Regions from separate parts of the Homo sapiens genome. Here region 2 is reported to be linked to region 1. The links are microRNA targets in miRTarBase. Many come from high-throughput screens and were not tested one by one. Region 1 holds a microRNA gene; the other region holds the end of a gene's coding sequence.
What was found. Region 1 holds the annotated microRNA hsa-miR-4714-3p (CCAACCUAGGUGGUCAGAGUUG, at 2,222-2,243, opposite strand). A microRNA usually pairs through its seed, bases 2 to 8, with sites in the 3' UTR of a target mRNA and lowers its output. Matches are read on the target gene's strand: a 7mer-m8 pairs with bases 2 to 8, a 7mer-A1 pairs with bases 2 to 7 and ends in A, and an 8mer does both.

Region 2: the mRNA of RAPGEF3 is a reported target of hsa-miR-4714-3p. The part of its 3' UTR that is shown has no 7-base or 8-base seed match.

What each region holds. Positions count from the first base shown.
Region 1 is chr15:98,783,553-98,786,715 of GRCh38, reverse strand. MIR4714 (microRNA 4714) reads right to left here and starts at 2,290; the gene lies at 2,214-2,290. The region is part of intron 2 of IGF1R (insulin like growth factor 1 receptor); the gene reads right to left. It overlaps LOC124903560 (a long non-coding RNA gene), which reads left to right and starts at 2,763. Exons shown (of 2, transcript XR_007064772.1): 1 at 2,763-3,163.
Region 2 is chr12:47,735,064-47,738,161 of GRCh38, forward strand. RAPGEF3 (Rap guanine nucleotide exchange factor 3) reads right to left here. Exons shown (of 28, transcript NM_001098531.4): 27 at 2,959-3,030; 28 at 1-2,622. The coding sequence ends at 2,504. Among named protein-coding and RNA genes, the nearest start is that of ENDOU, 11 kb to the left of the region's middle. RefSeq lists an enhancer at 3,082-3,098.

The sequences.
Region 1 (3,163 bases):
ATCCTATGAGTGAAAATGTACATGCAAACCTGGACTTTCTTCCCCCAATGCAACAACAACAACAAAAAAAGACAGTGGTTTTTCACTGTATTAGAGGCAACAGAGAAATCCCCTGTGTTTCCAGGTTCCTTAGAATACTTGACTGAAATAGGCTTATAGATTTTGATTCATCCACGTCTTCAAATAGGCAAAGGAGCACAAAGCAAGCACTGAGCTGGAAGGCACTTGCCACACCCGAGGCCTGGCCATTCGCTGCAGCACATGGCCTCTTTCAATGGGGCCATCTGTCCCAGAAAAATCTAGAGGTGTTTTCTTCTTTGTTTAATAAAAAAAAAAAATTAACTCCCTGGTTAACAATTAAACCACTGAGTAAAGACAATTTGCAATGTGGCTAATCATTCTGACTCTGCATTAGATGAGCCAAGGAAACCACACTGTATGTACCCTCAGGTTTTCCTCCACCTTGTTCTAAGTGTCCTGGCTTCAAACAGGTGCTGACCCCAAATGACTGGAACCAACAAAACCTGCACTGAGGTCAACTGGTGGGGAAACTGAATACTCATCTGTAGACCTAGGCAACTTGCTTTCCATGTCTGAGATTAACAAGGCTGTACTCGCTGAAGCCTAGGAGTGCACGTGATTTCTGGGGTAGCCACAGACCAAGCCCTAAAAGGGAGGGTGAGAGAGGCAGAGTCTGCAGGGGAGGGGCAGCAGCTGAAAGGCTGAGCGCTGGGACCATCCATAATTGGATTAGACAGCCGCAACCAACTGACTCTTTCAGCAGACCGAGCCCACATTGTGCTCCAGCTAGTGGTCACGTAGGTGTGCTTTGTTTTAAGGAAACCCAATACCTACATTCCTGATTTACAATACAGATGCTTTATTGGGGCACCTCACATGGTCAGACCCTCCTGCCTCTCTTTCCTTTACTGCTTGAGGTGGGTGGGGATCACTTCCTGAGCTCCAAGGAAAAATAATACAGGCTAGAGAATATTTGCATCAATAGCACAATCACAGCAGGCTAGACTGCTTTACCAACACTATCGAATTCAATCTTCAAAGTACTTCCAAAGGCATTCCATTTATTCCCAATGTACTGGTGAGGACTCTGGAAAAGTTCCACAAAACCTTTGGGGCTAAAGTCCTCTGAACGCTAAAGCCTGCGGCCCTGGGGCCAATTAACACACCTCCTATAAGTATTAAAATCTAAATTTTGCTACCCTTCCTTATGAACATTATTTTTAACTCTGGATTACCTGGGACTGAAATCATGAATGTTTTCTAGAGATTCTATTACTTGACATTCTCAAATACAGTGCACACACAACTACTTTCATATGCTACAAAGGGAAGAGGGAATTGTGACATCTGATAGAAGGATAAAGAAACTCAAGTCCAAAAGAACTGCAAGTATCTGACTGTGTACAATTAGTTCTTGGTACAAACTAGATATACAGTGTATTGTTTCCAAAAAGCATTCTGTATACAAGAAAAGTAGATTCAATTACCTAAATAACAAGATGACATTCTGATGATTTGGAGGTTAATTACTGTAAGGCACTAACCAATCAAGTCAAATTCCAGTTGCAAAATTGAATTTTAAAATTGTAATCATAAAATTACAAACTACTAGCAACTATTTCCCATGTTTAACAGCTTGCTCCCTTCTAAACACATACACATATATATATACACATGAACTTCTGTGTGTTCATATTCTTTCTGGTTTAATTCAAGTTGTCGAAAATCTAGACATGTTGTAAATACAGTCATCCCTCAGTATCCAAGGGGGATTGGTTCCAGGACTCCCACGGATACAAAATCCTTGGATGCTCAAGTCTCTGCAATAAAATGGCAGCGCTTGCATATAACGTATGCACATCGTCTCATAGACTTTCAGCCATCTCTAGCTTACAATACCCAATACAAATGCTGTATAAAAAGTTGTTATACTAGTTTTTAAATTTGTTGTCTTTATTGTTGTATTGTAATTTTTTTTTACTGTTTTTCCCCCCAAATATTCTTAATCTGTAGTTGAAGGAATCCGCAGATGTAGAACTGAAGGAGACAAAGGGCTGACTACCTGCAGTTTTACATAAGAGATTAGAATTACAATAACTCAGGTAAAGAATGTTCACAAACTGGACGCTAAACTAGGGCATATGGTCAAGTATGACTTAACCTAGACTAAATTGCTCAGCAGGAAAATGTGTATTTTGGCCAACTCTGACCACCTAGGTTGGTACACCTCATTCTGACATCAACCTAAGGGGTCAGAGTTGGCCAAAATAAAAATTCTACTAGCAGAAATTCTTTCTAGCAGTAAAAAGAAAAGGGAGATGCTCAGATATCCTGGACTCCCCAGAGGGGTAAGATTACCCCTAGGACTTCTCTGTTTACTGCCATGAGAAGAATATCAGCTTGCAGCACCATAATCCAGAGCTGAAAAAAGACTTTTTATACTTAAAAATAGGATTCAGGGGCCGGGCACGGTGGCTCACGCCTGTAATCCCAGCACTTTGAAACCAGCCTGGTCAACACGGTGAAACTCTGTCTCCACTAAAAATACAAAAATTACCCGGGTGTGGTTGCGGGTGCCTGCAATCCCAGCTACTTGGGAGGCTGAGGCAGGAGAATCGCTTGAACCCGGAAGCCAGAGGCTGCAGTGAGCTGAGACTGCGCCATTGCACTCTAGCCTGGGCAACAAAGGGAGACTCCATCTCAAAAAAAAAAAAAAAAAAAAAAAAAAAAAAAAAATTTCAGATGCCATAGTATTTGCAATAGACCAATCAAAAACTCTATGTGCATATAGCACATAAATAACTTCTAATCTAGCCTAGGAAGAAGGATAGCGTGGTACTATCTATAAACCCACTTTGTGACAGCAGCACTTTCTAGCAACAGCATCGGTATTCTCCACAAAATGTAGCAAGTGACACCTAATAAAAATAAAAGGAGTTGACATATCTTGAGCATGTATTGATAATTAGTAATAAACTAGCATAAACTAAAAAGTGAGTTCAATAAGTTGTATCTCTATATACTGGCAATGAGCAAAGAAATTAAATACTTAGGGTGTAACTCTACCAAAACATACACAGGACTACAAAAACTACAAAATGCTAATGAAGTAAATCAAAGAAAAACTAAATAAATGGAGGGA
Region 2 (3,098 bases), not on the chromosome of region 1:
GGAGGGGGGATGTGTGTGTAACAATGACCTCCCTCTGTCCTGTCCTGCCCGGTAGGACACACACGCAGCCATTCCTCTCTGCTTGACCTCCTTTCAGGTAACAGAGGCTTTTTAAAGGACTGATCTAGGGCCACACTCCCTTTCTGCACACCTTCTTCTCAGCAGTCCCATGAGCCCCTCCTCCCTTTGTGGCCTTCTTGCAGCTGAGACACAAAATGGGAGCCCCTGCACACAGCCTGGGCTGCTAGGGAACACCAGAGGATGCCTCCTGCCCCACACCACCCCACGCTTGGGCAGTCAGGGAGACAGAAGGCAGCACAAACTCCCAGCATGGGGCCACCGTAACATGGAGCCTTTCCCCGCTTTTGGGCCTCCTGTCCTCTGGGAGTGGCCTGGCCCCCTGGGCCGCAACTCTTCTAGCTCCCAGAGTCTGTGTCCTCTTGCCTGCCCTGGGCACCATTCTCCTGGCAAGGTCTCTCCCAACAGGCTCAAAAGCCATCCTGCCCGAGACTGGGGCAGCTGGGAGACCACCGGGTGGCTGCAGGGTGGTCTGGACTGTAAAGCTGATGGTCCAAGGAGGAGGGAGAAGTCCCATCAGGACGTAGATGTGACCAGAGGAGAAATGCTGGTGGAGGACACCGGCCCCCGTGGCACTTGGTTTCTGTTGTGTCGCTGGGCTGGGCTCACCCTAGAGTCTGAAGAACGGTGAAGGGCCACGGCTGGCTGGCTGGCTTTTGCCGAGACACCAGCAGACAATGGGTTGGATGAAAAGAAAGCCCCCGGACTCCTGACTCACCCAGGCTTGAGCCTCCTGTCCTGATTGCTCAGTTCCAGATGCTTCCGTGCTTCTCCTGTGTCCCCACCCACGGCAAGGGAACTGGTTTGGTTACCACTGCCATCTGCTGCACCTCAGTCTCTCCCTCAGCCCTCAACTGAGGCGAGGCTGCCCCCCTACCAGGCCTGGATAGCACAGGACTGCCCTTGGCTGTCACCTCTGCTACAGAGGCAGGAGCTACAGTTTTATGTGTTTGTCACTAAGCGCTGTATGGCGTTTATCATACCTGGCTTACAGGTGGAGAAATGAAGGAAGAGAACTGTTCACTGACTTGCTCAGATTCACTTAGTGACCTGAGGTCTAAGCCCAGCTGTGCTGCCTCCCTGCTAAAGGCTCTGACCCTTTCTGGAAGCAGCAGGCCTGTGTATCCACATCCATGGGGCTGAAGTGCAGAGGGGCCATACCAGCTGCCTCTGGACGCCCAAGGCCCTGCAGCCTCAATACCTACTCAGGAGTCATGCCAGGGGCCATGAGTTCTCTCTCTGGCCAGACAAGTGCCTCCTGCTGCCAGGACTCAGGGCAATAGCAAGGCAAGAGGGTGGAGTCCCTGGAGCTTCCTGGGTGAGCTCTGCCTCGCAAGAGGCGTCCTGGCAGTAGCTGGTTCCTAGGGGAAGTGCTGAAGGGGCAGGGAAGAGAGGACTTCGTATGACCAGAGCTTGCTGGGACCATTCTCAACACTGATGATAAACCCTGATTTCCTGGAAGTCTGTTGGGCCTCAACAAGCGACGGGCTCTCCGCGGAAGCTTCAGCATTGTTTCTATCACAAGCCACCCCCAGAAGACCCCAGAAGCCTGGCCCAACAGGCCAGGACGAGCTCAAGTGTGGAAAAGCGGGGATTGCAGTTGGGAAGAAGCTGTCAGTTGCATCTGGACTGTAAAGTCCTATTGGACCACCACGGGGAGCTGATGGTCACCCTGGCTGGCTGCTGACAGGGGCTCCAGGCTCCAGCCCGCCCTTTGGCCAGAGCCCTGGAGGCACATCTGGGTGGCATCAGGATCTTGGACCCAGTCTGGCCCGTGCCCAGCATGGGGCTGCTTCTCCTCCACAGCTCCTTCCCAGAGGGCGGGGCCTCAGCCTCCCTGCCACGCCCACTCTGGGCTGGCCTGGAACATACTACTATGTTGACAGTAACAATAAAGCTCCTCAGGGACCACCGCACAGGCCCGCAGCCCCACTGCCTGCTGTTGGAAGAAAGCTGTGGAAAGAAAGCAGGGGGCCCCTGCCCCAGGCCAAGGCCCTGCCCTTGCCACACACGGTACACACATGCAGCCTCTCTCTCTCTCTCTGTCCACTGTGAAAATAAACTGCAGGCCTGGCTGGACAACAAAGCCAGAGGCACAGAATCTGGAAGACATCTGGTGTGGAGACCTCTCTATTGCACACAACGTCCCAGCGCACTCCACTCTCCACCCACTCCTGGGGCCTCTCTGTCCTCCCTTCCTTGGCCTTGGGTCATTCGTTATTCCTGGCTCGGGTCCACTCCGAGGTCCTCCTTAGCTGCCAGTCATCACAGGGGATGGCTGCCTCCACACTGCCTGCTCCAGGGACTCGAGTCCACTCCACGGAGAGCCTTGCCCAGCTGTGGCCAGCCTGTGAGTATCTTGGCCCGGCACACCCTGGCTTTCCCGGCTGCAAGTGCCTGCTCCAGCTCCAGTCCCAGCCCCTCCTCATGGCTCCAGCTCTCGGGAGAGGCGGGAGAGTTCCCGCTGGTTGTCAATGACCTTCAGCTGCTGGACATAAGCCCAGGTGCTGGCTGGACTCCGGGTGCTCAGGGACTGCTCCGAGCCTGGTGGAGGAGAGTAGTCAGGGAGGCACTGATGCCCCTTTGTGGAACCCAACCTTTCCCCTCCAAGGAGCCATATCACATCTGCCTTCTTGCCCTCCACCACCCACCAACCACTTCCCATCACCAATTCCTAAAGACGGCTGTCCCTGCCCACCCCACGGGTGAGGGGACCGAAGAGCCCCCTGGCTCAGAGCACAGAGGCTGAACATTATCAACATCATGTATGGAAGGGCCGGGCTCCGTGCCTGGCACATGGCAAGTGCCTAGGATGTGCCAGCCATGGGTAACTACCATAAGCACCCCCTCCCTGCCCACCCACCATCGCCCACCACTTACATGTGGAAATCCTCGCCACCTGGCTGTCCTCGTGGAGGTGGGAAACTCGGCTTCTGAGTGGTGAGAGAGGCACTGCGGGGGTGGGGAGGGGTCATGGAGTCAGGGCCACCCTGGAGCCTCACAGAGGATGTAGGGTGGGG